Linked DNA regions of Homo sapiens. The protein of the gene in region 1 interacts with the protein of each later gene in a pairwise test. Each region holds a gene or a part of one and is shown on either strand. Other genes may lie near its edges. The genes, in order: GJA1, TJP1, NINJ2 and TMEM128.

Region 1 (7,000 bases):
TTATTTGAAGAGATGTGTGGGAGCTTATCCGCACACACCAGTTCAACTCTGGAGAGAAAAAGTAATTATCTAGTGTTTATTATTAATGTAATATTCTGTATGGATAATTCAAGTTTTAAAAAATCTCCAGAGCATCTCTTCCATGGGAGATTAATGTATATATTTTTTAAATTCTTAGCATAATTGTCTAAACCTCCATCTAAAGTCACCTTTTAACTATGTATGTACAGATTGTCTTTTACCTATTTTCAAACTGTGGTTAGCTCTTTTTTTTTAATACATCAGTGGCTTATACAATTTCATAAATTTCACATTCCAATTTCCCTATGCTTTTAAAATAATATTTTAAGAAAAATATATGTTTATCGTCAGCTGGGCATGATGGCTCATGCCTGTAATCCTAGCCCTTTGAGAGGCTGAGGTGGGAGGATCGCTTGGGGCCAGGAGTTTAAAACCAGCCTGAGCAACATAGCAAGACCCCACCTCTATAAAAAAAAATTTTAAAAAGAAAATGTATGTTTGTCAATCATTTCTTAGTTGCTGTTTTGCTAAAGAAAAGATGAAAAATTTAAAACCAAATGAGCTATATCTAAAGGTCGTCTAAAGAGTAAGAACCAAACTTTACTGAGCTGTTACTAAGAGCATCACATGCATGAGTTATTTATTAAATTCTCATTGAAAAAAATAGACTATCTTAATCAATACACTTGTGAGGGCCCTAAGGGTGTCTTTATATGATTATAAAATAACAAGGCTATTCACTAAAAATAGTCAATTTGGAGGTGGAAGTAAGAGTAGGGGCAGAGGAAACGCCAAGGACTGATAGAAATATATTAAGTTACATCACAATTGAAGAACATGGCTTTTAGCCTCAGCTTCTGACTTGGGATTTTCTCTCTGGTAGCCCTAAATTGATCTTGAGAAACTTGTTTTGGGGGAGAATTGAGTAGTAGCTGTTGAACTAGGGAGAGGATTGTCTTTTATGGGATGCACCATCCTCTCTTTGGATGGAGTTCCTCACACCTCAATTCCCATCTCATCTCATTAAGTGGATGCTAATGTAAGTTCAGTGATGAGGAGGGGTAAGAGCTGGGGAAGGAAGGCTTGTTGGTGTTTTTATGTTGTCCTCCCCTCTGCCCCCAAAATAAGCAGTTCACAACATCAAATACCTACACAAATGTGCAATTATTTATAAATATATTTTTACATACAGTAAGTTTGATACACTATAGTTAGGCCATCTAGGTATAAATAAGGAAGTAAAGGTTGGGTATTATCTGATGAACTGGGAATCTTTTCCATGGTACTTGAATCTAATCACTTTAGTGCCTGCATAGACTCAGACTGTAAAGATGTTACATTAACCAGGGTTAATATCAACTGCTGCTCTTCCCCTTCAGAGCCCTAGCCTTCCCCGATATTTATCATTCTTGAAATAAACACGATTTTAAACAGGCTATTTCTTCTTGTAATAGTGTCCTTGTCTACAATAAAATTGTGTGGTGCAATCGGAGTTAGAACATCGTAGAACTAGGGGACAACCACACAGTTGTGTTTTTTCCTTTTTTTTTTTGTTTTGTGTTTTAAATCTTAACCTGCAACAACCTAACAGTGAACTGAATGTACAAGCATGATACCTGATGCAGTTCTACAAGAATCCTAACCCTCATTAGGATCTCATTTAACAAATTCAGGAAGCTCTTTGTTAAAAAGCCTTTTTTCTTTTTTCTTTTAAGCCTGTCAAATTTAGCAGTGGGGGTTGCAAAGAGCCTTTTTTCTTAATTTAGCTCTTTTGCCTGCTCAGGAATCATTTGAAGCATGTTGTTTCAACAAACAGTTCTCTGTTTCAGCAATTGTCACTTGAAAATTTAACAGTATGAGAATGAGATGATGACAATAGTTTTTTACTGTGAAGTTTCCTTTTTAATTAATTTGAAACTTTAGAAATTTGAGATATAACTACAATTAAGAGAATCCCAAAGAGACAGAAAAAAACAAACTTTTTTTTTTTTTTTGCACAGTATCTTTCTATTTTTTGTGGAAGCCCCATTTAATTCATTTAACATGTAGCTATACCCCAATTAATTAATTCTTTTCTTTTCTTTTCTTTTTTTGAGACGGAGTTTCACTCTATCACCCGGGTTGGAGTGCAGTGGTGTGATCTCTGCTCACTGCAGCCTCCGCCTCCCGGGTTCAAGCAATTCTCCTGCCTCAGCCTCCAGAGTAGCTGGGATTACAGGCACCCGCCACCACGCCTGGCTACTTTTTTGTTGTTGTTGTTGTTGTTGTTGTTGTTGTTTGTCGTTTTTTTCTTTGAGACGGAGTCTCGCTCTGTCGCCCAGGCTGGAGTGCAGTGGCGCGATCCCGGCTCACTGCAAGCTCCGCCTCCCGGGTTCACGCCATTCTCCTGCCTCAGCCTCCCGAGTAGCTGGGACTACAGGTGCCCGCCACCACGCCCGGCTAATTTTTTTGTATTTTTTTTATTTTTAGTAGAGACGGGGTTTCACTGTGTTAGCCAGGATGGTCTCTATCTCCTAACCTCGTGATCCGCCCGCCTCGGCCTCCCAAAGTGCTGGGACTACAGGCTTAAGCCACCGCACCCGGTCTACTTTTTTGTGTTTTTAGTAGAGATGGGATTTCACTATGTTGGCCAGGCTGATCTCAAACTCTTGACCTCAGATGATCCTCCCACCTCGGCCTCCCAAAGTGCTGGAATTACAGGTGTGAGCCACATCTCTTACTCTTTCAAGCACTGGGGATACAGCAGTGAACAAAGCAAACTCCCTCGTATTGTTCACATTCCAGTTAAGGAAGACAAATAATAAATCCTTCTCATGGAAGGAGGTACATAGTAATCAGGCAAATATTTACTATATCAAGTAGAGAGAAAGTCTATTAAAATAATAATTTTTTAAAAACCAGGGCAAAGGGAATAGGAAATGACAGGACTGGGGAAAGGATGTTGCTATTTCATATTTGGTGGTCAGGAAAGTTGGCTGATGAGGTGAGACCTGCAACAAGTGAGGACGTGAGCTGCGTGGATGGAGCAGAGCTCATCAAACCAAGCTGATTGTTGGTTTGTTTTCTCAAGATTGACTGATTACTCGGAGTATAGGTTGGCAAGTAGGGTGACCAGGCTAATGACATGAAACCTAGCAAACTGATGATGGCTGAGATCAAGCTAAGGGTGGCTGTTTTAAGTGCGGAGGAATAGACAACTGAGTTCACTCAATGACATTTACTGGAGGGGCAGAGGTTATTATAAAAGTGAAAGAAAACATTACAAGGGTTTGCATTTGAGTTTTTGGGCATGAATATTTTTGGGTGTTAGTACATTAGACACACACATGATTTCCCTTTCCTCCCAAAAAATCCATTAAATGATTTTATCGGGAACTTCCATAGACATTTCCTTATGTAGGTTTAGACTCTGATTTTATTCTTTCAGATATTAAAGTCCTTCACCTTCTCTTTTCTTTCAATCATAAAAAGATGCTGGATATCAAATTTCACTTTAGTTTTCAATAATCCTATTTACCTTTATTTAAGTCTCCATTCTCAACTCATTACATTTGTCTCTTCTTGAGAAAAATATTTAAAGTCGATAGTAAAATACTTAATTCTAATAACTATTAGTATATTAATGGCATGGAAAGACTTGACTGCAACTTCGGCACATGCTCTAGCAAAAGGCATAGTCAAATGTAATTTAAAATCAAAGCTTTATTTTTAAGAGATCTCATTTGAATTAAAGCGTTTAAGTTCTTCTGCTCTCAGGGAGCTGCAGATGGAGATGTAAGGAGTGACAAGGGGCTGTGGAGCCAAGGCTGACCTCAATGCCGGGTGCCCAGAGAGCTGCTGCTCCTGGTACTCAGCCCCTTGGATTTTTTAGACTGTTCCTTCTGCTTTCCTGACATTTCTCCCACTCCTAAATATTTTGAACAAGAAAGGGCCAGAAATGTCAAGAATAGTAACAAACACCAAAAAAACCTTACTTCCTAGGCCCCACCTCCAGAAATTCAGATTCATTCAGACTGGTGAAGACCAGGAATGTATGTTTTTAACAAATGCTGCCAAGTGACTGTGATGCAGTTCAGGAAAGGGGCCAGAGGAGCCTCAGGCTGGTCACACTTAGTGCCTGTAGCTTTGGGCATCCATCCAGTCTAGGGGGCCATGAAGAGCAATGGAAATGTAATCTAACATGGTGCATAGACGGCAAAAAGCGTGGTCCAGCTGCTAAGACTCTGCTCTTAACAAGAACTTTGCACAACTCCTCTTAGACAGACCTTGGTCTACATATAAAGCACCAACTCAGTATCCTAGAGGTGAAGGCATGAATATATGTGATATGTCCAGCTGCGTTGGTCTTCTCATGTATCAAATAAGAAATATACCTGTTTCCCCCTGGTGAATAAAAGTGCAGTTTATAGTCTGTAGATCAATGCCAGGGATTCTGTAAACATATAATTATGCCCTTTTATTATAAGAGGGTATTAACTTACCATACAAGACTTGGAAAAATGAAGATATTAAACTAGTTTGGGAAGGTGCAGCAGGGAGGAACAACCAGTTGCCAAAATTTGATTCATGGCAAAGTGAGCAACTACCAAAAAAAAAGGGAACAATTTTTGTTACCTGTTTTTGGGCAGCTGTCACATTAAACATTATTTGATGGTATCTATGATAGTGGAGATCGACAGGTAGCTACATGTTACAGGATACTCGGTGTCCAATTCGATAATTCGTATCTTATTAAGATGAAAGAGTATAACTCATTAATGCAAATGACAACTGCATGGGTGCTTAAAGAAAAGACAACTTTGCAATTAAGTTACTAGAGTATTAAAAAAGAACTAATGAAGAGCTGTCTGATGACTTAGTTCACATACTATGGAACTGTGGAGTGTTTTTGTAGAATCTCAAAATTATATGAAAGTCATGTATCATGAATTTTTTTATAGAATGTAAATAAAGACTATACTTTCAGGGATCATTTCTATAGTTTGTTACTAGAATGTAAATAAACTTAGTGATGAATTACTATAAGCATCTACACAATCATATTTTACTTTGAGTAATGATGAAATCCTAGCTAAAATAACTTCTGTTCTGCCTGGTCATATTTCTAGATATGATAGGTTTGTCTTCAGCTCTATCGTTGCATGAATGTGATGAGATGTATGCAAAGTTTATCTTTTTATACTTGATTGTTTTTGTTATTTTTCCCCTAGCAATTGAAATATGTGAGCAAAAGCAGATGACACTGGCAAAATACTGTAATTTTTTACAAACAGAATTAGGGCCAATTTTACACATCATCACATAGAAACTGTCTATTGATATAGCTCCAAAGATTCTGTTTGTCTGACCCTCATGGACTATACTTCTTCATTTCCAGTCTAGTATTTTCTGCTAAATTGTAGGGTTTTTTTTTCTTTCACATTCTCTCACCATCAAACTGTCCATCACGGCTAAATTACTCCCTCACTTCAAGCCTTTCCTTGGCTATTCAACTGTCTTTGTCAGCCTTTCAAGCCTTTGTTCTTATTTGACTGCTGTTTTAAATTGATGCTGTTTTCATACATCAATTTCACTTCCTAACTTGTCACTTCAGAATCTAAAATGACCCTTCCTAAGTAAAAGGGAAGCTCCCTTTCTTATGACCACTGGGGGAGTGTTATTTCTGTGGCCTTCACACCCACCTCCCACTCTTACTCAGCATTCTTTGGCACTAGTCCCTGGGCTGTCATCAAATGTACCCATGATACCGTGGTACCATCTAGCTGGTGCATAGTTTAGCTTTATGGCTCAGCCATCTCTTCTTTGTTCGGTCCAGGAAATCCCAGGTCAGGTGCCCATTTCATTTTTTCTTGTTCTCTATGGCCAGAAGATGCAGTCATTAGACAGAAATGTAATGTTGCTTACTGAGGAAGAAGACTCCCCTGGATTTCATTTACTTCCTACAAGGAGATACAGCTCAATAGTTCAACACCAGAAGAGAAACTCCTTTATATTCAGATAGTGAACATATTTCTAAGAAGCCTAAATAATCCTACCTTTAGATACTCTATTTAGAATTCATTACTAAGCTCCTGCAAAGTCTTAGCTTTGCTTGTTTTTAATTATTAAACAATCTTTGACTAATTTGTCCTTTTCTAAATCCTCCAATTACTACTATGTGCTGAAAATTAGCCTATATTCCCTATGCCTGCCACATCATGTTACTCACTTCTTCCCAGCTTTCAGCCCTGGCTAAGGTTGTGTATATCAAAGCCTGGAAACATTTCTAGCTTTAGCGCAGCCTTACTGTACTTTTAAAACCAGTGTGAGGCATTGAAAAGACTTGCCCGGGGATTGTGAATCTTCTTCTGGCTCTGTCTATAGCTAAATATTTCCTATACCCTGAGAACCTCTGAGAACCTCAATTTTTATCAGCTAAATGGATAATCGGCAATTAGAAGCATAAATTGAACTAGACAACTTTGGGGATTCTTGTTGGTTTCTACTGACTTACATCTTTTTAGTGAGACGGAGTCTCTCTTTGTCACCCAGGCTGGAGTGCAGTGGCGTGATCTCTGCAAGCTCCGCCTCCCGGGTTCAAGCGATTCTCTTGCCTTAGCCTCCCGAGTAGCTGGGACTACAGGCTCCCACCACCACACCTGGCTAATTTCTTGTATTTTTTGTAGAGACGGGGTTTCACCATGTTAGCCAGGATGGTCTGAATCTCCTGACCTCATGATCCACCCGCCTCCCAAAGTGCTTATAGGCGTGAGTGCATTATAGGCGTGAGCCACCACGCCTGGCCAGATCTTTTTCTTATCCTCAGTAATGGAGAAGGCGTGGACTTTAGATAGCTAGATATTGATAAGAAGTTAAATGGGATGTATAGCCTGAGGGTCCAAAGCCCAGTAAGGGAACTTTAAAGTATATAACAATGAAAGATGAAAACCAATCTTTTCTGGCTGGAGAAAACACCCTGAAGTAGGTTTTGTTTGTTTGT
Region 2 (8,229 bases), on another chromosome or scaffold:
TCTGTTTCACAATATATCCCTGTGAAAACAATGACCAGGTAATACAGGTTCCTTCCAGAGCTGTGTTAATGAAAAGAAGGGTGGTGGATGCACCTAGTATACCATGCCCTGTTTTGAGCTTCATTCACTCAACAATTACTGAGCCCCTACTGCATGCAAGGCAATGTTCTACACCCTAAAGTTATACATCACAAATAAGCTAAGTCTTCTTTCTAGAAAAACAAATTAACACAGAAAGCAAACATGCATTTTGATTGATTCCCTGGCAAAACAACTTACTTTTTAGACCTAAATATACTCCTTTTTTTTTTTGAGATGAGTCTGGCTCTGTCGCCCAGACTGGAGTGCAGTGGCGCGATCTCGGCTCATTGCAAGCTCCGCCTCCCGGGTTCATGCCATTCTCCTGCCTCAGCCTCCAGAGTAGCTGGGACTACAGGCACCTGCCACCATGCCCAGGTAATTTTTTGTATTTTTAGTAGAGACAGGGTTTCACCATATTAGCCAGGATGGTCTCGATCTCCTGACCTCATGATCCACCCACCTCGGCCTCCCAAAGTGCTGGGAGTACAGGCGTGAGCCACTGCGCCCAGCCTTTTTTTTTTTTTTTTTTTTTGAGACAGAGTCTCACTCTGTTGCCCAAGCTGGAGTCCAGTGGCACGATCTCGGCTCACTGCAAGCTCTGTCTCCCGGGTTCACGCCATTCTCCTGCCTCAGTCTCCCGAGTAGCTGGGACTATAGGAGCCCGCCACCACGCCCCGCTGATTTTTTTGTATTTTTAGTAGAGATGGGGTTTCATCGTGTTAGCCAGGATGGTCTCGATCTCCTGACCTCATGATCAGCCTGCCTTGGTCTCCCAAAGTGCTGGGATTACAGGCACGAGCCACTGCGCCTGGCCATATAATCTTTTTAAGGTTGTATTCTATTTACCAAATATGTAAAACGATAAATAAGAGATATCTTTAAACTAAACACCTGAGCCTTCTTCTGACAGGAATGAATGTGTTTAACGGTGTTTAGTAAAAATAATAACTAAAGGGTACACCCTTCTGCCTTACCAAAGGTGAGCTCCTATGGCTCAGTGCCTAGCTCACTTTAGGCTAGTCACCATTTAGATGTTACTGTGATAACTGTGTAAATGAATTCCTGTAACACTGTAAATGTAAATGAATTCCTAATGACAAATCCACATCTGTTTTTGTTCTTGTGGGTTTTGTTCTGTTGAGGTATGAACCCAGCTGTGCACCTGTGTGGGTTTATATTGTGCTAGCTCACTTCAGTCCAGACACCATCTAGATGCCACAACCCCTTTCTAGTGTTGTGCTAAGGGGTGGTTCACAACACTAGTACAAGACACGTTTTGCATTTAATACAACCCCCACTGCAGCACTCTCAGTTTGCATTTGGATTCTCATAAACTGCTTTCTTCTGTAAACATAAAGCCTTAAATATAGGACAGTGAAAAAAGTCTTCACTACAAAGGATGTCTTAGAAAAAAGCAGTGGTAATTAAAATTAGGTTTTAATGTTAGTGGTTTTAAAGTATGTTCTAAAACAATTTACACTCAATAGTAAATGACAAATAGGTCATTTCCCAAGATAATCCCAAGCCCACGCAACTAAGTAAGGAAAAATCTAGGTGCTTTTAATATAGACACAATACTATGTGTGATGAATTCTAATATGTCAATCTGGCTAGGTACTGCCATGAAGGGATTTTTCAGGTGTAATGTCCCCAAGTCAGTTGAGGGGAGATGGTCTTGGGAGGGCCTGGCCTAATCAGCAGAGCCCTCTGAATGAGAATTTAGGCCTTCCCTGATCTCACACTCCCCAGTAGCTCAAAATCTTCCCTTCCTGACCAACTGCCCTCTGAAATAGGACTTGCTTAGCCAGCCCCTGTAACTGTGTAAATGAATTTCTTTTGACAAATCCACATCTGTTTTTGTTCTTGTGGGTTTTGTTCTATTGAGGTATGAATCTACCTGTGTGCCCGTGTGGGCTTAGACACAACTATCAGTACCAAATTCTCTTATCAGTCAGGGTTCAACCAGAGACACAGAACCAGTAGGAGACACAAACCCACGCAGGCACAAGAAAGGAGAACAAACCAACACGAAACCCAGGGATGAGTAAACGGAGGGGAGCAGCAAGCACAGGGAAAAGATGACTGGGAGTCAAGAAACTTGGGGTTCAGTCCCAGCTCTGCCCTGTCATTTTCCCTCACCTGTAAAACTGGATCAGAAATCTTACAAAAACAAAAAACAAAAAACCTCTTCAGTATTTCCCTCAAACAGGATCCTCCTCACATCTGTATTTATATTTAAAAAATAAAAACAGAAAAGAAAAAGAACCAGCATGACATCATTAGGTGTGTGTACAGAAGTGAAGACTGATGATTACCTATCGATGAGGGTCCTTGTGGTTGACACTGTCTTCCGTCAAAACCCTGTGATGTTAGCATCTTTGTGAATGCAAAAACTATGTACATCTAATAGCAGACTTTAAAAACAAAACACACATCCCAGAACTAAAAAGTATGTACAATGCTGAACCACTAGAGCCTACAGAAATCATATATTACACTTAAATTATTTTTCTTCAAAATATATTGAACTGCACGGGATTAATATGCTGCATCCTATTTTTAAAAGCCAGGTGAAATAGCTTACTTTGAAGAATAACTAGAAAAATTTGATTGATTCTGAGAATGCGCTGGCTTTGCAGGCTCGGAGAGATGGCTGGCGGCAATGTGTGCAGGAGGCTTATTCTCAAAACTTCTTCGGTCAAAGTATGACAGCTGTTTTCGATAATATTCTTCATCTTCTTCAGGGTCATAATGATTGGACCGAACAATATCTTCAGGTGGCTTCAGTTGAGGTTTTTGAGGTTCTGGGATCCTAACAGATAATGAATGACAAACGGAACACCTTTTTAAATATTAATGTTATGAAGGAAGTAGAATATGTAAGTCTTATCTTGACTAAAAGGTCAATAATTACTAACTGCTGTGATTACTGAGGATCTGAGCAGTCCCAACAGTTAAAATGGATATTTCAAATCCCATGTCCTCACAGAGTATACTCAAAAGGCAGCCCCCTTCTGGCTCATGAGTCCTTTAACACAATATAATAAGCTAAACGATTACATGATTAGGGAACAGCAGGTTAGAAGTAGTTAATCAGAAAGACAAAGGGCAATGTAACCGAGACAGTGAACATCTTGAGAAGTACATATACCAAGGTCAAGAACAGTAAATGATAGACTTTAAGAACTTTCAAAGGGATTTTTAAGAACTCAGTCCAGGATCTCAATGATTCTCATATGAACAAATAACTCTATATGGTCTAAAGTTCTAGAAGGCATACAAAGCAGATGAGGAAGAAAGCAAGTCATTAAGTAAATTCATATTAGACAGTTCTCTTCTTTATCCTAAGTGCAAACATATATTCAGTCAAAAAACAAAATCAGAAGAGCTGTATTCAAATCTAATCTGTCACTTATTGGCAGTGCAATGAGGCCATGGGAAAAAGCTCAGGCTGAGGAGCAGCAGGCCAGGTTTCTCTTCCAGCTCTAAGTCTTGTAAGCTACTTGCCCCTCTCAGCCTCAGTGTCTCTCTCTACAATGCAGAACAACAACAGTGTCACCTCATTATGCTGATGTGCTTAGCACAAGGGCAAGCACCTTATGCATGCTCACTAAATGATTTAGTTATCTTAACCAATCTGAGTCTGTTTCCTCACCACTGGAAACTAAGAGTTCACATGTCGAAAAGCACTTTTAAAACTAAAAAACATAATACAAATGTCAGAGCTTAAAAATGTTTATTTAATCATCTGCTTGGAGAATATCTTTCCGAAAGTCTGCTAAAGGTATAAAGATTTGTCAGATTTGTCAGAAATAAAGTTCTACTTTTTTTCCCCCTAGAATCACTGTTTAGGAGAGCTGATAGTTTTTATTTAAGGACAAACTCCTCCTATTCACACCTCTCCTCTACTAACACAGTAAAAGGTTTTCTTATTGACTAAGAGGGTTAAATTCCTGGTCAGTTCTATGCCACAAAGAGCACAAAGTGTACTCACCTGTACAGAGTTTTGTCATGTTCACTGAATTGATTCTGAGAAGTGGGTTTGGGACCAATGATGGGAGCACCTGAAGGTTTAGATGCTACTTCTGGAGGCTGTTTAAAAAAAAAAAAAAAAAAAAGACAAATATGCCTAAGGAACAGATAATTAACAGAATAGATATCATGTAATGGCGGAGGGGAGAGCCAAGAAGCCTTTTAAACGGTGTGCCCATGCATCCAAGGCACTAAAGACATATTTACCTTAAAACTGCCAGTGTCATTTACATCCTTCTTGGTCTCTAAGGATGCAGATCTTTTGTTTTCAAACATCTTAACTCTGGTGAGTACAGACTGTGGCTTCATTGCTGGATCTTCCTCTTCTTCGGTTTGAGTTGGGGGTGGAGGCAGTGGTTTGGTGTTTGAAGGCAGAGCTTCTGGCTTATGCTGAGATGAAGGTATCAGCGGAGGGACAGCTGCAGCACCATGGAGAGGCTCAAAATGACCTGCTCTAGAGGTAAATCCTTGGGGTGGTACTTGCTCGTAACTGCGTGAATATTGCTCAAAATACTGCTTGGACTCTGCAGGCTTGGGCCCTGCTGAAGGGTGGGGCTGGGCTTCCGGTCTGAGTCTACCATGTGTGTCATACCCAGGAGCTGGCTGCTCTTCGTGCCGCAGGGCGGATGCTCTAGGTGCCTGTTCGTAACGTGGTCTGCTGTCGTAAGACAGAGGGGCTGGCTCTTCAAAACGTGGAAAGTACCCTCGTTCTGAGGACTCTTCGGGATGCTGTCTGGAGTCAAGGTCTTGAGAGTGCTGATTATCAAAAGGTGGCCGAGATGGGTAGGGCTGTTTGTCATCATAATATGACCACTGTTCTTCATACATGGGGACGCGATCTTCGTATCGCAGACGATGTTCATAGTTTCGAGAAAACTGGTCCGTATAGCTTGAGGACTCGTATCTGTATGTGGGCTGCTCGAGGTCTCTGCTGGCTTGTTTCTCTACGTATGGGAGTTGGGGTTCATAGGTCAGATTAGGCTCTTTGTCTGGCCTGTGCCCTGGGTGACTAACGGCTGGCTGTTTCAAAACATGGTTCTGCCTCATCATTTCCTCGGGATATGGATCCTTTCTATACACCTGTATAAAAAATTCACATTTAAGGACAAAGTCTTGTTTCTAATTCTAGTCTATTTTATTAGACTGTGATTAAATATTAAACTACGATTTAATATGTGAAAATGGTATGTTTTACCATTTATTATCAGGATAGACAAGATTAGTGGAAAAAGCTGGTTTAAGTGAAAGCTCAAAATTTATAATGCAGGTAGGGGCTTTTATGTTTCAGCATGTACTAAATAAACAGTGAGTTAAAGATAAATATTAAATTTAGTAGAAAATTAATGCACTATTGATTACACTTCATTTTGACACTGAAAAATCCTAAAGAAGATTTATGGGCATCATAATTTGTATTAACATAAATATGTTTATGATGGGTTTCGATTACATATTAAGGAATTCTGGAAGATACTGAAAGCCAAAAATAAAAATAATAAGCACAAATCTCAATTAAAAGGCCTGTTTTCAAATAATCAGTATACCAATGGAAGCCATGCAAACTACGAAACTGAAATGATTTGTATTGATTTGAAAGCATTACAGTGTATAAGCCTGCAGTAAAAAAGCAAAAGGAACACTTAAAGGGCAAAGCAAAAATGATCATGTGCCAGATTGATGGACAGCAACAAATTAGTGCAACACCGCAGCACAGGTACCTTTGTTGGATCTACATGCGACGACAATGATGGTTCTTGATCTCTTAGCATTATGTGAGCTGCCTCAGTACTTGGTGTTCTTAAAGAATCAGCTTGTGGTGAGTAAGAGGTGGAAGGAGCTGGGGTGGGCTCCTCCAGTCTGACATTAGTTAAATTTACATTATGATTAACAGCAGAGGTTGATGATGCTGGGTTTGTTTCAGGCGAAAGGTAAGGGACTGGAGATGAAGCTTCTGCTTTCTGTGAAGTGTTTAAAATATTTTAAATATAGTGTTTCTGTTTACTGCTAACTTTCCACTTCAATTTATAGTGATTGGTAGACATACATTTTAAGTGTGCTGAATAACAAAATTATGACCTCATGTCCTAAACTTTTTGGGAAAAAAAAAAAATCCAGTACATTGCTGTGTTAAGACAAACACACAAAATTTAGAATTAAGCCCTTGGTACTCTCAAATTGAAATTGAAGATTAATTCTTAATCTGGAGAAAGGACAACATATATATTTTTAACTCAATCACCACATTCTAAAATTTAATAATGCACCTCTATCTACAAAACGTTGAATGCTTGCTGCTTACCTGTTGAGAGGCTGGCTTAAATCCAGGGGAGTCTATTCTATGAATTGGTTGTGGCTGCGCTTGTGGTGAGTAAGGAGGATATGTTTGGTTTTCATGATGCATTCCAGAGGAGTCCTCTCTTACAGGCTCAGAGGACCGTGTAATGGCAGACTCCGGTGGAGTCCCAACCTCATCATTAAGAGTTTCATCTAGTTCTTGATCAGTGTAGGCCCCGCCTTCTGTGTCTGTGTCTTCATAGTCAGAAGTGTGTCTACTGTCCGTGCTATACATTGAGTATTCACTACCTGGAGCTGACAGGTAGGACAGACGATCATCATGCAAATCAAGGTCATCACTTGTAGCACCATCCGCCTGGGTCAAATAAAAGTAAATTACAAATTTTATTCAGTAGTTCTTTAAGAGATGGCCTTTATCGTACAAGGCAGATTGAAAAGGATATCTTTCTCTGGAGAAGTCACATCTACTTCTTGAAACTTCTGGTAAGGAAAAGTCAAGAAGATTGTACAAGCACACACGCAGACACATGGAGCACCCCTTGAGATCTGAAGGGCATGGATGAAGGAAACAGTGGCCGGTAAGCCAGGACAAAGTTAGACTCCAGGGCCCAGCCCTGGAAGACAACGAAGAAACTCTGACACTGCTCAGATTTATAAAACCTACTCACTAGCTCTTCAGCCCTTTTAAGCAAGGGGAAGAGGGAGAATGTTACCAAACTAAGCTCACAGAAACAAGGACACACTGACAGAATAGCACATGGAAGAATACCTATGAAATAAACCCAACAGTTCAAAAGTTGAATAAGAGCTAATATATTTATGTTTAGGAAACAACTGATATGGTTTGGATTTGTGTTCCCACCCAAATCTCATGTTGAATTGTAATCCCCAGTGTTGGGGGAGGGGCCTGGTGGGAGGTGACTGGATCATGGGGGTGGTTTCTAATGGTTTAGCACCATCTCCCTCACACAGTCTTGTGATAGAATTCTCCCAAGATCTGTTTTTTTAAGTGTGCAGCACCTCCCCAACTCTCTTCCTCCTGCTCCAGCCATATAAGACATGCTTCCTTCCCCTTCCGCCACGATTGTAAGTTGCCTGAGGCCTCCCCAGAAGCAGAAGCCTGTACAGCCTGCAGAACTGTGAGCCAATGAAACCTTTTCTTTATAAATTACCCAGTCTCAGGTGGTTCTTTATCACAGTGTGAGAATGGACTAATACAGTAAATTGGTACCAGAGAAGTAGGGCATTGCCAAAAAGATACCTGAAAATGTGGAAGCAGCTTTGGAACTGGGTAATGGGCAGAGGTTGGAACAGTTTGGAGGGCTCAAGAGAAGACAGAAAAATGAGGGAAAGTTTGGAATTTCCTAGAGACCTGTTGAATGGTTTTGACCAAAATGCTAATAGTGATATGGACAATAAAGTCCAGGCTGTGGAGGTCTCAGACAGAGATGAAGAACTTACTGGGAACTGGAGTAAAGGTCATTCATTCTTGCTATGCTTTAGCAAAGACACTGGTGGCACTGTGCCCCTGCTCTAGTGATCTGTGGAACTTTGAACTTGAGAGAGATGATTTAGGGTATCTGGTGGAAGAAATTTCTGAATAGCAAAGCATTCAAGATGCGACCTGGCTGCTTCTAACAGCATGTGTTCATATGTGTGCACAAACAGATTATCTGAAACTGGAACTTATATTTAAAAGTGAAGCAGAGCATAAAAGTTTGGAAAATTTGCAGCCTGGCTATGCAGTAAAAAATAAAAACCCATTTTCTGGGGAGGAATTCAAGCTGGCTGCAGAAATTTGTTAAGTAACGAGGGACAGAA
Region 3 (8,229 bases), on another chromosome or scaffold:
TTTGGGAGGCTGAGGTGGGCAGATCACTTGAGGTCACAAGTTCAAGACCAGCCTGGCCAATATAGTGAAACCCCATGTCTACTAAAAATACAAAAATTAGCTGGGCGTGGTGGCAGGCGCCTGTAACCCAGCTACTTGGGAGGCTGAGGCAGGAGAATCGCTTGAACCCGGGAAGCGAAGGTTGCAGTGAGCCGAGATCACGCCATTGCACTGCAGCCTGGGCAACAAGAGCAAAACTCTGTCTCAAAAAAAAAAAAAGAAAAAGAAAAAGAAAAAAATTCATACATTTGTGATATACAAAGTAATATTTTGTTTCTTTTTTTTTTTTTTTTTTTTGAGATGGAGTCTTGCTCTGTCACCCAGGCTGGAGTGCAGTGGTGCGATCTTGGCTCACTGCAAGCTCCACATCCCAGGTTCACACCATTCTCCTGCCTCAGCCTCCCGAGTAGCTGGGACTACAGGCACCCGCCACCATGCCTGGCTAATGTTTTGTATTTTTAGTAGAGACGAGGTTTCACCTTGTTAGCCAGGATGGTCTTGATCTCTTGACCCGTGATCTGCCCGCCTCTGCCTCCCAAAGTGCTGGGATTACAGGCGTGAGCCATATTTTGTTTCTTATACTTAATTGATCTAACAGTTTGTTCAAAATGAACAAATCAAAATATCAACAATATATTTGATTATGTATACTTATGTATATGTTTTATGATGTATACACATATATATGTATACATATATGTGCGTAAAATGAATGCCAGCAATGATACGTGGAACAGGATGGAGGAATTAGGATTGTTTTGTTATCATAAGGTACTCACACGATCCATGAAATGGTATAGTGTTATTTGAAAGTGCACTTGGATTTGTTGTACTTGTAAACTGCAAACTCCAGGGCAATAACTAAAAAAAGTTAAAAAAAAGTACAACTGATACACTATGAATGGAGATAAAACAGGAACATATAAAATGCTCAGTTAAAACCACCAAAGGCAAAAAAAAAAGTGGAAGACAAAAATAGGAGCAAAGAATGAGGGTAACAAATAGAAAAACAGTAACAAATGTGGTAGATCCAACTATATCAGTAATCACTTTGAATGTCAATGGTCTAAGTGCATAATTGAAAGGCAGAAATTGTCAGGATGGACACAAAAAGAAGACTCAACTGTATGTTGTCTACAAGAAACTCACATTAACCATAAAGATACATATAGATCAGCTGAGTGTGGTATCTCACCCCTGTAACCCAGCACTTTAGGAGGCTGAAATGGGAAAATCACTTGAAGCCAGGAGTAAGACTAGCCTGGGCAATATAGTGAGACCCCATCTCTACAAAGAATAAGAAAATAGCTGGGTGTGGTGGTTTGTGCCTGTAGTCCTAGCTGCTTGGGAGGCTGAAGTGGGAGGATTGCTTGTGCCAAGGCATTTCAGGCTGCAGTGAGCCAAGATGGTGCCACTGCACTCCAGCCTGGGTGATGGGTGATAGAGTAAGACCTTGTATCAAACAAAAAAAGACACATACGGATTAAAAGTAAATGGATGGGGTCAGGCACGGTGGCTCACGCCTGTAATCCCACACTTTGGGAGGCCGAGGTGGGCAGATCACCTGTCAGGAGTTCGAGACCAGCCTGACCAACATGGAGAAACCCCGTCTCTACTAAAAATATAAAAATTAGCCGGGCATGGTGGCACATGCGTATAATCCCAGCTACTCCGGACCTTGAGGCAGGATAATTGCTTGAACCCGGGAGGCAGAGGTTGCGGTGAGCCGAGATCATGCCATTGCACTCCAGCTTAGGCAACAAGAGTGAAACTCCGTCTCAAAAAAAAAAAAAAAAAAGAATTATACACCACACCAACTGGGGTTTAGTCCAGGTATGCAGGACTGGTTCAACATTTGAAAATCAATTAATGCTAGGTGCAGTGGCTCACGCCTTTAACCCTAGCACTTTGGGAGGCCGAGGTGGGTGGATCACCTGAGGTTGGGAGTTCAAGACAAGCCTGACCAACATGGAGAAACCTGTCTCTACTAAAAATACAAAATTAGTCGGGCGTGGTGACACCCGCCTGTAATCTCAGCTGCTCGGGAGGCTGAGGCAGGGGAATCACTTGAACCTGGGAGGTGGAGGTTGCAGTGAACTGAGATCAACTATTGCACTCCAGCCTGGGCAACAAGATCCAAACTCCATTTCAAAAAAAAAAAAAGAGAATAAAATAAAAACAAAAGAAAATCAATTAATGTAATTAATCACACCAACTGACTAAAAAAGAAAAATCACATGATCATATTAATAGATGTAGAAAAAGTATTTGGCAAAATTCAACACCCATTCATGATAAAAACTCTCAGTACACTAGATAATTTCCTCAATTTGATAAAGAATATCTACAAAAAGCCTATAACTAACATCATACTTAATGATAAGAAAGTAGAAGCACTCCCACTAAGATTAGAAACAGGCAAGGATGTCTCCTGTCACCACTGCTTCATACATTGAATTTGCATTCAGTATGAACAAGTCTTAGCAGTTTCCCAGTCTTTGCTAGGAAGTCCTAGTAAATGCAATGTAGTTCCTTCAGAAAAAGGAAATGAAGGGACTACAGATTGGGAGTGAAGAAATAAAACTATCTCTGTTTGCAGATGACATGATTGTCTATGTAGAAAATCTAAATGAACTGACCAAAAATCTGCTGGAACTAATAAGCAATTATAGCAAGGTTGCAGGATACAAGGTTAATACATAAAATGCAATCACTTTCCTATGAAACAGCACTGAACAAGTAGAATCTGAAACTTAAAACACTACCATTTACATTAGCACCTAAAAAAGTGAAATGCCTATGTATAAATCTAACAAAATATGTACAATATCTATTATGAGGAAAACTACAAAACTGATTAAATAAATCAAGGAACTAAATAAATGAAGGGGACAAGCGCGGTGGCTCACGTCTGTAATCTCAGCACTTTGGGAGGCTGAGGCGGGTGGATCACTTGAGGTCAGGAGTTCGAGACCAGCCTGGTCAACATGGTGAAACCCTGTCACTACTAAAAATACAAAAATTAGCTGGGCATGGTGGCACGCACCTGTAATCCCAGCTACTCAGGAGGCTGAGGCAGGAGAATTGCTTCAACCTGGGAAGCGGAGTTTGCAGTGAGCTGAGATTGTGCCACTGTACTCCAGCCTGGGTGACAGAGCAAGACTCCATCTTAATAAATAAATAAATAAATTTATAAATAAATATAAAATAAATAGATAGATAGATATTCCATGTTTATGGATAAGAGGACTCACTATAGATTCAAACAATCCCAATCAAAATCAGTTGTGAATATCAACAAACTAATTGTATAGTTAGTTTATATAGAGAAGCAAAAGACCCGCAGGGCGTAGTGGCTCGCGCCTGTAATCCCAGCACTTCGGGAGGCTGAGGTGGGTGGATCATGAGGTCAAGAGATCGAGACCATCCTGGCCAACATGGTGAAACCCCATCTCTACTAAAAATACAAAAAATTAGCTGGGCGTGGTGGTGGGCACCTGTTGTCCCAGCTACTTGGGAAGCTGAGGCAGGAGAATCACTTGAACCCAGGAGGCGGAGGTTGCAGTGAGCCAAGATTACGTCACTGCACTCCAGCCTGGAGACAGAGTGAGACTCTGTCTAAAAATAAAATAAAATAAAATAAACCCAAAATAGGTGACAAAATACTGAAGGAAAAGAACAAAGTCAGAGGACTGACACTACCCGACTTGAAGAATTACTGTAAAGCGGCCAGGCATGGTGGCTCACACCTGTAATCCCAGCACTTTGGGAGGTAGGGTCTGGTGGATCACAAGTTCAGGAGTTCGAGACCAGCCTGGCCAAGATGGTGAAACCCCATCTCTACTAAAAATACAAAAATTAGCCAGATGTGGTGGCGGGCCCCTGTAATCCCAGCTACTCGGGAGGCTGAGGCAGGAGAATCGCTTGAACTTGGGAGGTGGAGGTTGCAGTGAGCCGAGATTGCGCCACTGCACTGTAGCCTGGGTGACAGAGCAAGACTCTGTCTCAAAAAAAAAAAAAAATTACTGTAAAGCTACAATAATTAAGACAATGTGTTTTGGACAAAGAATAGACAAATAGATCAATGGAACAGAATAATGAACCCAGAAATAGACCCAACTGATCTTTGATAAAGGAACAAAGACAATACGATGTAGCAGAGATAGTCTTTTCAACGAATGGTGCCAGAATAACCGGGCATCCACGTGTAAAAATATGAATCTAAGCACAGACCTTCCACCCTCTACAAGAATTAATTCAAAGTGGACTATAAACCTAAATGTAAAATGCGAAACTATAAAACTCATAAATGATAATATAGGAGAAAATCTAGATGACCTTGAATATGCTTACAACTTTTTGTATACAATACCAAAGGGTACAATCCATGAAAGAAATAATAAACTGGATTTTATTAACATTGAAAACTTCTACTCTGTGAAAGGCAATGTCAACAGAATAAGACAAGCCACAGACTGGGAGAAAATATCTGCAAAAGATGCATCTAATAAACAGTTGTTATCCAAAACAGACAAAGAATCTTAAAATTCAACAACAAGAAAATAAGGCCGGGCGCAGTGGCTCACACCTGTAATCCCAGCACTTTGGGAGGCTGAGGCGGGTGGATCACAAGGTCAGGAGTTTGAGACCAGCCTGGCCAACATAGTGAAACCCCGCCTCTATTAAAAATACAAAAATTAGCCGGGGCATGGTGGCGCATGCCTGTAGTCCCAGCTACTCAGGAGGCTGAGGCAGGAGGATCGCTTGAACCCGGGAAGCAGAGGTTGCGGTGAGCTGAGATCGGGCCACTGCACTCCAGCCTGGAAGACAGAGCGAGACTCCTTCTCAAAAAATAAATAAATAAATAAGTAACCCCACTAAATATGGGCAAAAAACCTGAACAGCCACCTCACTAAAGAAGATGCAAAGGTAGCAGATAAGCATATGAGAAGATTCTCCACATCTTATGTCACTAGGGAAATGCAAATTAAAACAAAAATGGGATATCACTGCACAGCTACTAGAATGGCCAACATCCAGAACACTGACAATACCAAATGCTGATGAGAATGTGGAACACCTATTCATTGCTGGTGGACATGCAAAACAGTATAGCCATTTTGGAAGACAGTTTGGCAGTTTCTTCCAAAACTCAACACACTCTTACCATATGATCCAGCAATTGCAATCCTTGGTATCTTCCCAAATGAATTCAGAATTTGTGTTTACACAAAAACCTACACAGGCTTTTTTTTTTTTTTTTTTTTTTTTTTTTGAGGCAGAGTCTCACTCTGTCACTCAGGCTGGAGTGCAGTGGTGCGATCTCAGCTGGCTGCAACCTCCGCCTCCCGGGTTCAAGCGATTCTCCTGCCTTAGCCTCCCGAGTAGCTGGGATTACAAGCACCTGCCACCATGCCTGGCTAATTTTTGTATTTTTAGTAGAAGTGGGGTTTCACCATGTTAGCGATAGCCAGGCTGGTCTCGAACTCCTAACCTCAAGTGATCCACTCACCTCGGCCTCCCAAAGTGCTGGGATTACAGGTGTGAGCCACTGCGCCCAGCTGAGTGGCTTTATACAGAATGATACGTAATGCCAAAACTTGGAAGCAACCAAGATGTCCTTCGGTAGGTGAATAAAATAAACAGTAGTACATCCAGACACTGGAATATTATTCAGTACTTAAAAGAAATGAGCTATCAAGCCATGAAAAGAGATGGAGGAAACTTCAGTGCCATTACTGAGTGAGAGAAGGCAATCTGAAAAGGCTACATATTGTATGATTCCAGCTATGTGACACTCTGGAAAAGGCAAAACAAAAAGTCAGTCATTGCTAGGGGTTCAGAGGGGAAGGAGCAATGAAGAGGCAGAATGCAGAGGATTTTTAGGGCAGTGAAACTTCTCTATTATGCTATGCTATGCTATGCTATGCTATGCTATGCTATGCTATGCTATGCTATGCTATGCTATGCTATGCTATGCTATGCTAATGCTATGCTATGCTATACTATACTATGCTATAGCGGTGGAAACATGTTATTACGCATAGAATGTTTAACACCAAGAGTGAACCCTCATGTAAACTGTAGACTTTGGGTCATAATGATGTGTCAATGTAAGGCTCATCGGTTGTAAAAAAACAATGTACCATTTTGGTGGAGGAAGTTGATAATGGGGAGTCTATGCATGTGGGGCAAGGGGCTATATGGGAGATCTCTGGCCTTCCTTCTCCATTTTGCCATGAACCTAAAACTGCTATTACATATATAGTTGCTATTCTCTCTATATATAACTGCTATTATATATTATATATAATATATATATAATATATAACTGCTTATATATATATATGTCTTTAAAAACAATAAAACAAACAAACAAACAAAAACACTCCCAGAGTACTTTGCCTATAGACCTTCTTCTATTCATAAGTGTTTTTACCTCCACTCCCATCTCATTCTATCTGTATCTCGCTCTACTTAACCTGAGCTATACTGAATTTGCATTCGGTTTGGACAAGTCTTAGTTCCTCTTTTGGCAGATCATCTTCACATTTCCATCAACATGCAGCACAGGTGGAAAAAAAGGGGCCAATAACTGGATCTGCCTGGGGAATCTGGAAGCCCAAGAGGAGCTGCATTTTGGGAAGGAGCCAGGCTAGGGGCTTAAACTCTGTACTTGGGGGTAGGGTTGCAACACTGGCTCGAAGGGGAAGAAAGGGATTATCCTCAACCTTTCACACATCCAGACTCTGGGAGATGCGCAGGCTTAGCTCCCTGGCAGGGCTACCAGTGAAGGCAGGGAGAAGGGCAGAGGCTTGGAGGCCACAGCCACAGGCCATAGAACAGAAGGAGCAGCTCCAGGCATCCAGCTGGTGGAGGCCACCTGCCCTGAGTGCTGTGCGCCACTCTTCACAGCCAGCTGTGCTGCTGCTACCCATCCCAGTCTCACAGGTCTTGACCTGGAGATACATTTGCAACATTGATTATAGAGGCTCAAGTTAATGTTATTTTAGATTAGAGTTTCCCAAACTTCAGTTGTGCCATGTTCAGGGTTTCAACGTCTCAGTGCAGTAGTAGGTGCGGGCACACACACCTGTGATCCATGTCACCCAGGGCTGCCGTACTTCTGAACAGGTCAGACAGAAACAGTTACTAAGACATTGAGGGTATGCCCAGGTCATGTGCAAGGACTGTATAAAGGTGTCAAAAAACTTCCTGCCACTTACTTGAGGCTCATCCTAAGCAATAAAAATGTTGGAATTGCCTGGACATGTGGCTCATGCCTGTAATCCCAACACTTTGGGAGGCCAAGACAGGAAGATCACTTGAGACCAGCAGTTAGAGACCAGCCTGGGCAATACAGTGAGACCCCAATCACTAAAAAAAGAAAAAAAAAATTAGCTGGGCATGGTAGTGCACATGTGTGGTCCCAGCTATTTAGGAGGCTGAGGCAGGAGGATAACTTGGGCCCAGGAGGTTAAGGCTGCAGTGAGCCAAGATTGCACCACTGCACTCCTGCCTGTGTGACACAGCAAGATCCTGTCTGTTAAAAAAAAAAAAAAAAAAAAAAGGAATCACAGGTCTGATAAGTTGTTATGCTTTCTTTCTTTTTTCTTTTCTTTTTTTTTTTTTTGAGACAGAGTCTCAAAAGTGCAGTGGCACGATCTCCGCTCACCACAACCTCTGCCTCCCAGGTTCAAGCAACTCTCCTGCCTCAGCCTCCTGAGTAGCTGGGACTACAGGCGTACACCACCACGCCTAGCTAATTTTTGTATTTTTAGTAGAGACAGGGTTTCACTATGTTGGCCAGGATGGTCTGCAACCCCTGACCTCGTGATCCGCCCACCTCAGACTCCCAAAGTGCTGGGGTTACAGGCGTGAGCCACCTAGCCCGGCCCTGTTATGCTCTTTCTAATGAATACTGAAACTATAAAGATGGCCAGCTATGGTGGCTCACACCTGTAATCCCAGCACTTTGGGAGGCCGAGGCTTGTGGATCATTTGAGGTCAGGAGTGCAAGACTAGCCTGGCCAATATGATGAAACCCTGTCTCTACTAAAAATATGAAAATTAGCCAAGTGTGGTGGTACATGCCTATAATCCCAGCTACTTGGGAAGCTGAGGCAGGAGAATCACTTGAACCCAGGAGGCGGAGGTTGCAGTGAGCTGAGATTTTGCCACTACACTCCA
Region 4 (8,790 bases), on another chromosome or scaffold:
TTTCTGTCGTGGGTAGAACCTCTCACAGTACAGCTAGTTTGAGTAATGAATGGGTGAGGAATAACTAGGCTCACTTGAAGATGATTCAAGTGATTTTTACCACATAGTATGTCCCCTAAGTGAAAGACACTAACATCGACTGAACACTTTCCATGAAACATGCTTTTCCATTTAGACCCTACAGGGCAAGCCCATTCCAACTCTCTTCATCACATGGTATGAGAAGTAAGAAACAAAACATAGGTATGAACGTATATTGAATATGATCAAACTTAAAAGGTAAACAAATTGGAAAAAAAGTAGACTTGCCACATATTTGAGGTTCAAAGACAGACAGCCTTGATCTATCAAAATATGCAAAAATGAAAATTCCAAAAGGAAAAAGACATATGCATAGTCGATTAACATAAAAAAATCTGTTAGCAAAGAAAAGCAAATTAAAATGGCAGTTCGCCCCGGCCAACAACTATCACTTGGGAAAAATTTATCAAAATGATAAAGCCCGCTGTTGGTGCAAACATTGAAGATGGCCTCTCCTGCCCTCTGCTGGTGGGAATTTAAACTACAGTAGTATGGTAAGTCCTTTCTGGACCTTCTTTGAAAATATCAATCAAAAGTCTTTAAAATGGCCAGGCGCCGTGGTTCACTCCTGTAATCCCAGCACTTTGGGAGGCCGAGGCGGGCGGATCACAAGGTCAGGAGATCGAGATCATCCTGGCTAACATAGTGAAACCCCGTCTCTACTAAAAATGTAAAAAATTAGCCTGGTGTGGTGGCGGGCGCCTGTAGTCCCAGCTACTCAGGAGGCTGAGGCAGGAGAATGGCGTGAACTCGGGAGGCGGAGCTTGCAGTGAGCAGAGATCGCGCCACTGCACTCCAGCCTGGGCAACAGAGCGAGACTCCGTCTCACAAAAAAAAAAAAAAAAAAAAAAAATCCCGTCTCTACTAAAAATACAAAAATTAGCCGAAATTAGCCGGGCATGGTGGCATGCGCCTGTAGTCCCAGCTACTCGGCAGGCTGAGGTAGGAGAATTGCTTGAACCCAGGAGACAGAGGTTGCAGTGAGCTGAGATCATGCCACTGCACTCCAGCCTGGTGACAGAGCAAGACTCCATCTAAAAAAAAAAAAAAAAAAGTCTTTAAAACGTTTGTATCTTTTGATCTAGGGATTCCAATGCTATAGCTTTTACCAGGGGAATAATCACAGCTGTGTAGAAATAGGCACACATTTTATTGTGTTTTTATACAATCAATGGAAGAACTTTTTAAAACTAGCTTTCTTCTTGGAATGAAGAACAGTATCCTAAATGATAGATATTAACATTCACTGAGCACTTTCCATATGCCAGGTACTTTTCTAAGAGCTTTACCTGTATTCTCATTCCTGGAGGCGCTCACAGAATACCTGGGGACCAATGGGGCAGCTACACAGCACAGTGAGAGAACAGGGTGGTACTGGTCTGGCCTCAGAGTTTCAAGTAACAGAAAACAACTGAAATTAAAATTAATTTAAAAAAGGGAAAATTTAACCATCTGTAAAGTCTCAGCAATGGATAATAACAGCTAAGATTTACTGAGAGTTTTCTATGGGCTGCTCTAAAGACTTCGCATGTATTAATACTTTTAATCTTTACCCAATCCTGTGAGGTGGGTATTATTCTTAACCCCATTTTGCAAGTGAGGAAACTAAGGCAAAGAGTGGATAAGATGCTTTCTCAAGGTTCAAAGAGTCAGTAATGACAGGACCGGCAATGACAGCCAGGCAGGCAGCTAGCTCCAGAGCTCAGTTCCTTAACAGGATTAACTAAGGCTTGGCTAGATCTGGGAGGCGGCGCAATGCTACCAAGACCTCTTAGCTTGCCTCTCAGTGCTTCCTTCCCACGTGGGCTCCCATTTCCAGAACAGCAGCCCCAAGCCCAAACTGACCTCAGAGCTCACCATATCAAAGCAACCGTGAACATCTTCCCAGCCTAAGACGTGGAGGATGAGAGGTCTGTTTTGGGTCTTGTGCCCTCCCCTAGGACGGGGTCAGTCTCTGGGATCTGAGCAGGACCACTATAGAAAGCAGCAGTGGTTTCTCAGAGGTAGGCAGACACATGTATATCCATATTGAAGACAAGTTAGCTGTGCTCAAGGACCAAAGTAAGCACAGCTAATGGAGTTCCTGCCGTGTGCTCGGTGTTTGCAAGGTACTGGGGGATACCAAGACATGGTTGTTTCTCCCAATCAACTGGGGGAAACACAGGGCAAAAGGAAAATAACAATAAAGCTTGGTAATTCTTGGAAGAGAGACATGAATAGAGTCACTGGAACCCAGGGACAAGGGAACACTGATCAAGGGGCGAACAGGTGCCGGATCTTGAAGGCCTGGCAAGCCAAATTACTAAGAATAGTAACTACTGCTGTTTGGAGGCAAACTATGTATGCCAGGCACTAAGCTAAACAATCTGTATACATGTATCTTCACTCCAATACCCGATGTTTCACAGATGAGCAAACTGATACTTAGAACAATAAAATAACTTGCCCAAAGACCCACAGTGATGGAGGCAGGATTTGACAGTCTATACACACCTTGGATTTAACTATGTTGCTAAGGGGGGGCCAGTAAAGGTCACAATGAAATTCATTTGTTCCCCACAAGTAATCCACATTGAAAATGAAAATTTCTTAATTGGTAGCAAATCTGGTATCACATATCTATCTATAATTAGGGTGCCACAGTACACACATTGAAGGGTTTCTTTTCTTTTCTTTCTTTTTTTTTTGAGACAGAGTTTCACTCTTGCTGCCCAGGCTGGAGTGCAATGGGTGGTCTTGGCTTACTGCAACCTCCACTTCCTGGGTTCAAGCCATTCTCCTGCCTCAGCCTCCCAGGCAGCTGGGATTATAGGCGCTTGCTACCATGCCCAGCTAATTTTTTTTTTTTTTTTTGTATTTTTAGTAGAGACGGGGTTTCACCATGTTGGCCAGGCTGGTCTCAAACTCTTGAGCTGAGGTGCCACCTGCCTCAGCCTCCCAAAGTGCTGGGATTACAGGCATGAGCCACTGCACCTGCCCAAAGGGCTTCTTTAATGGACCTCAGAAATGAAGATGTGGTCATTAAATACTGGAATTTTTCCAACCTCCTTTTAAGTATCATCAATATGCTGTGCAAGTAGTGCCATTTAAAATTGCAGAGAAAAAAACTCTGGAAGGATTTCAGATCCAAATTCAAAGGCCCCGAAACCACAAAAGGAGAAACCTGATCTGACCTGAACATACCATGTATGGGAACCTGGGATAGCGGCGATGCTCTTGGGAGTATTCAGTTACCACGGAGGCCCTGCACTGACCCTTTTTCGAGGAGACAATCAACAGAAGATTGTATTTGATGGGACAAATTCACTTCCTGTTAACAAGGCTTCTAACCCCGTACGAGAGAGAAGAGAGGGCAAAGACTTCAGTTGACTTTGAATAAATGAATCCAGTTCTTTAGGAGTCTTGAAAGAAAAAAAAAACAGAAAAAAAAAAACAGGATAAAGGAGGTATTGTTTAGAAAGGCCATATGATCCACCCAGCTGTTAAATCCTGTGCTCCGAAGGGGGAAGAAAGGCTGAAGAAATGATAAATCAGTAGGGATTTGGTATTTCTCTCTTTTTTTTAATTTTTTTTATTTTTATTTTTGAGAGGGAATCTCACTCTGTTGCCCAAGCTGGAGTGCAGTGGCAGGATCACTGCAGCCTCCTTCTCCCAGGTTCAAGTGATTGTCCTGCCTCAGCCTCCAGAGTAGCTGGGATTACAGGTGCCGGCCACCATTCCCGGCTAACTTTTGTATTTTTAGTAGAGACGGGGTTTCGCCATGTTGGCCAGGCTGGTCTCAAACGCCTGACCTTGTGATCCGCCCGCCTCGGCCTCGCAAAGTGTTGGGATTACAGGCGTGAGCCACCGCGCGCGGCTGGCACTCTTTTCTTGAGTATTTCTTATTACATTCCTTTTACAAACACCCCAACACATCGAAGATATTAAACAGTGCCTACTAATTCAAATTTTACTTCCTATGTAGCTGGCTCTCCACCCCTGTATTCAACTCACCTGAAACCACTCTCCCTGCTCTCCCACACTGCAGCAGAATAAACTGCCCTTTATATGTACAGTGTTTCTATTATGCCCCATGTACAGTGTTTTTATTATGGCACTGTATTGAAGCTGCTTCCTCTACTAGATTCTTCTGTCCTCACCATTTTATCACATGCAGCTGCTCAGAAAATGTTGGCTGCATTGATGAAATGCTTTCATACATTTACAAATAGAGTTTTCTTGTAATATACCTCTGTGGTTTTCTTTGGACAAGGAGCTCCTCACGTGCAAGGCCATGTCTTACTCATCTTTATCTCCACTGCTAGCATGGTGCCTAACAGCTCCTACCAAATAGTAGATGCTCAGTAAACGTTTGCGTGGCTAAGCCCACCATTTCTCAGCACATGACACGCTGGGAAACGGCTGGGAGAGTAATACGCGGGATTATTGACGAAGAAAAAGTTGTGAACTCGTAACACACAGTTTGTGGGCGTGAGCAGTGTGGAAAACCGCAGTTTGCTGGGAAAGCAATTTAGTTCCCTCGGTTCAGGCTGGGAGGATTTTTCACAAGTGGCGAGGAGGAGGCTCACATGAACCACATACAGGTACTTCTCACTGAAACGCACAACAAATCTAGAGCCAAGTGTAATAACGAAACGGGCCCCAAGAAGTTTATTTAATGCCCAGGGCCCCCAAGTGGTCACTGCCAGGCTCTAGCATCCTGTCCAGCAGGCCTTTCTCCTCCTTTCAAGTCTTGCTGGACGACTCCTGAAAAGCAAAAGTAGGAAAAAAACTGGGGGCTGAGAGTGGAAGGCTGGACAGAGGGTATGTCTCCTGCTCTGGCACCCGGAAGCCTGCGAGGGCTTCGGAAGCGCAGCGTCTCACGGTCGCGCATCCCGGCCCTGGACGCATCCAGCGGCAGCGGTAATCCTGGTCCTCCTGGGCTTCCGTAGGTCGGAATAAACTTGGGAACTCTTCCACCGGCAAAGCTCAGTGTTTTAAAATTCAAATCACACTTGCCGACATGAGAGCGGAACCTTTGAGGCCGACTCCACCCTAGCTGCTCGCTAACTAAACAGCGAAGAGAACACAGTCTCCAATCCAAACGCCAGGAGGTCCAGACCCGGAGCGGACGCCGGAAGCGCTGTGTCTGACGTCACTTCCGTCGCATTTCGGGGCGGTACCAAGATGGACTCCTCGCGGGCCCGGCAGCAGCTCCGGCGGCGATTCCTCCTCCTGCCGGACGCCGAGGCCCAGCTGGACCGCGAGGGTGACGCCGGGCCGGGTGAGGCGCGCACCAAGCCGCCCCGAGGTTCTCAGAGGCGAGGCGTCGGAAAACGGCCGGCCTCCGGCAGCCCTGGCCCAGTCTGGAAGGACTGAGTTTCGGCTTTGCAAGTCGAATATTTAATGTCAGGGAAGATCCTTAGAATCGCGGAGTGCTGTGCATCGTCATTTCAGCTGCGCTTCAGAATTCTCTGGAGAGCTGATTTGACACCTATTTGGAAATAGCGATTAAAATTAAAAATACCCACCAGTTTTAAGTCTTAAGGATTTACCAGAAACATGCGTGTACCGCAGTGTACAATGATGTGCGCAGTGTTTCACTTCAGGATTGCTTGTAATAGCGAATTACTGGAAATATCTGCCTTGCCCGTCAGCAGAAAGCTGTTTAAGTAAATTTGGGTATATGTATACCTGACACATCAGGTCGACTCGTATGTACCAATGGGGATGATTTTCAAAGGGAAGTGTGGAACACTATGGTATGCCGCCATTTGGGTACAAAACAGGTAACTTGTGATGTATGTTCACCTGTGAATGCATAGAATATGGAAGAATTCAGTAGAAATTGTAAGTGGTGGTTGCTTCTGGGGATTAGATCTGAGGTTAAGGATGGGAGACAGATACTTCATTTTGGATATTTTTTATCTCATATGTTTTAAAACCACGTCCATTTATTACCTTTTAAAATTAAAAACACGAATAACCTCATGCCCAGGCATGATGATGTATACATTTTGAGGATATCCCAGAATATTACGAACATGCTTCCCAGGGTTTCCGATGGTCATCTAAAGGCCCAAAACCTCAGATGTGGACCATTGATTCTCACGTGAACCTAGAGGGCATGTCAGAATCCCCGGAAAACTTAATAGAAATCATCCATCTGACCCAACCCCCATCCACCCATTCTTTCAGATTGCGTTCCAGACAGGAAAAATGTCTTGTCCATCACCTGTCTAGACAGTGCTGTGCTGGAACTAGAGCTCTGGTGTGCCGTTTCCACTTTTGAGCTGTGTTTAAAGTAACTAAAATATTTAGTTATAGGCTGGGCAGGGTAGCTCACGCCTGTAATCCCAGCACTTTGAGAGGCTGAGGCGGGCTGATCACGAGGTCAGGAGTTCGAGACCAACCTGGCCAAATAGAGCAGCCTGGCCAAGATGGTGAAACCCCGTCTCTACTAAAAATACAAAAATTAGCCCGGCGTGGTGGCAGGCGCCTGTAATCCCAGGTACTCGGGAGGCTGAGGCAGGAGAATTGCTTGAACCCGGGAGGCGGTGGTTGCAGTGAGCCGAGATCAAACCATTCCACTCCAACCCGGGCGACAGAGGAAGACTCCGACTCAAAAAAAAAAAATTTAGTTATAAAAGTGTTCTTGGAAGACCACAAGTCCAGTTCATGCGCTAATGTTTGCCTTTGGCATTTTTCCTAATTAACAAGACTAATTACTTTCCTAGAAGAAATGTGAAACATAATATTAAAATTCTTACATTTCCAGGTGACATTGTTATTTCCGAAAGACGATGAAAGTGTAAATTTGATTTCACAATGTATTTAGAGGAAATAAATTGACTGTATTGACCATATTTTATAGTGGGCTCTTATTTTTTGTAAATATAAACCTATCTCAAGGGTTTTACAGAAGGATTTGTTATCATGGGAGAGACTGTTTCTTAGCTCTAGGAAATGATTTTATTTGGCTTAAGTGTAATTTTTCCTCGCAAAATTGTGGTAACTTAATAAGTTGAAATCTCCCTTATTTGCAGAAACCTCCACAGCTGTTGAGAAAAAGGAGAAACCTCTTCCAAGACTTAATATCCATTCTGGATTCTGGATTTTGGCATCCATTGTTGTGACCTATTATGTTGACTTCTTTAAAACCCTTAAAGAAAACTTCCACACTAGCAGGTAAGAAAATTTTATTGCTTTGTAAATTAAACCCAAGTCTGATTTTTCGTGTTATATTTTGTTAGTTGAATTCTTCAAACAGTAAGCACCTACTACTCTCTGCCAGGCCCTGTGTTGGAGGTGTGGTGATACGAAGATGAATATGAGATGGGGGTCAAAGGGTACATATTTTTAGTTATAAGATGAATAAGGTCTGGAGATCTAATGTACATACAGTATAGTGACTATAGTTAATAAGGCTGTATTGTATACTTGAAATTTTCTAAGAGTAGGTCTTGTGTCCTCCCCCTGTTACCCCACCAGTGGTAACTATGTGAGGTGATGAGTGTGATAATTAACTTGATTGTGGTAATAATTTCACAATGTGTGTGTGTGTATATGTATACACGTATATATATATTCATATATATGTATATATGTATATATTCATGTGTGTGTGTATATATATATCAAGTCATCACACTGTATACCTTGAATATATAAAATTTTAATTTGTCAATTGTACTTCAATAAAGCTGGAAAAAATAAAACCAATGAGAGGGTGTGTGCTCTGGGCACATACAGTAGAGTGGAATAGAACTGGAAATTATTTGTGTGCAAATAAATGTGTTGTAGGATGAGGAAGGTAGTAAATTTAAGAAGAACCTAATCCATTTGGGGAAAAGAGGGAGAAAGACTGACTGAAGGTCTTCAAAGACCAAGTACAAGAGTACTGGGAGGAAGAGCCGAGAACTGTGGCCAGTGGGAATTGGGTCTCAGGGTTGGTTTCAGAGGGTGGTTACAGCTGACAAGGTAACTACAGGGTGTAACTGTGTTAGAGTGGAGGTGAAGGTCCACAGTGGGAGGAGTGACAGCTTTGTGGCCAGACCAGATGTCCAGTAGTTCCTCATTCACAGGGACTGAGATCCTTTCAGTATAGTCTCCAGAGTTGACATGGAGGAGAGGGTTGGAATCATATCCTAGGGTCCTTACTGCACATTGGAGAGTGATGTGGAGACCCTTGGATAAGAAATGGAAGGGAGAGGTATGTTGGTGAGCATCATGGCATTGGGAGGGCTGGTGTGCTTAGGGTCAAGAGTAATAATTTGGAAGTACCAGTGGGGGTAGGAAGATGCAGACAGGACTGTGGTCCCCTCGTATCATGGCAGGACACATGATTTCTCCTCAAGGGCCTTCAGGAGGAGCAGTGACTTCTGGCGGAGGAGACTGTCGAGCCACAAGGAAAAAGCCCACAGGGGAAAGTAGGCAGAGGGGAGTTTATTTAAACTGTCCTCTACTTTCTAGGGGAGAAACTTTCCCTAAACACTCCCATCTTCTGCCCCTCCATGTCACTCACTCCTTTGTGGGAGGTGGCGTGACTGATTGAGTGTGTGATGAAGAACTGGACAAAGGTAGCTCAGCACCTTCTTCTGCTGCAAGTCGGCTGCCCATAGGAAGCGCAGAGTCTGGTCTGCCTTCCCATGGTGTCATTCCACAGGGGCAGTCCCCACAGGAAAAGGTCTCTAGGTTTTCATTTTGACCTGGAACCCAGTGGGTAAGGCT

What was found.
Region 2: the proteins of GJA1 (region 1) and TJP1 interact in binary tests that used the Homo sapiens proteins (3 or more experiments, as listed by UniProt).
Region 3: the proteins of GJA1 (region 1) and NINJ2 interact in binary tests that used the Homo sapiens proteins (3 or more experiments, as listed by UniProt).
Region 4: the proteins of GJA1 (region 1) and TMEM128 interact in binary tests that used the Homo sapiens proteins (3 or more experiments, as listed by UniProt).

Annotation. Positions count from the first base shown.
Region 1 is NC_000006.12:121,438,646-121,445,645, forward strand, and holds part of GJA1 (gap junction alpha-1 protein), read left to right. Parts: intron 1-4,971; exon of another isoform or gene 4,972-5,048; intron 5,049-7,000. UniProt on the Homo sapiens protein: Gap junction protein that acts as a regulator of bladder capacity. A gap junction consists of a cluster of closely packed pairs of transmembrane channels, the connexons, through which materials of low MW diffuse from one cell to a neighboring cell.
Region 2 is NC_000015.10:29,713,946-29,722,174, forward strand, and holds part of TJP1 (tight junction protein 1), read right to left. Parts: intron 6,764-8,229; coding exon 6,413-6,763; intron 6,072-6,412; coding exon 5,832-6,071; intron 5,194-5,831; coding exon 4,321-5,193; intron 4,174-4,320; coding exon 4,076-4,173; intron 2,894-4,075; coding exon 2,666-2,893; intron 1-2,665. UniProt on the Homo sapiens protein: TJP1, TJP2, and TJP3 are closely related scaffolding proteins that link tight junction (TJ) transmembrane proteins such as claudins, junctional adhesion molecules, and occludin to the actin cytoskeleton.
Region 3 is NC_000012.12:652,703-660,931, forward strand, and holds part of NINJ2 (ninjurin-2), read right to left. Parts: intron 1-8,229. UniProt on the Homo sapiens protein: Its role in unclear. In contrast to NINJ1 paralog, does not mediate plasma membrane rupture (cytolysis) downstream of necroptotic and pyroptotic programmed cell death.
Region 4 is NC_000004.12:4,244,660-4,253,449, reverse strand, and holds the start of TMEM128 (transmembrane protein 128), read left to right. Parts: upstream 1-5,226; 5' UTR 5,227-5,247; coding exon 5,248-5,344; exon of another isoform or gene 5,345-5,824; coding exon of another isoform or gene 5,825-5,849; intron 5,850-7,106; coding exon 7,107-7,248; intron 7,249-8,790.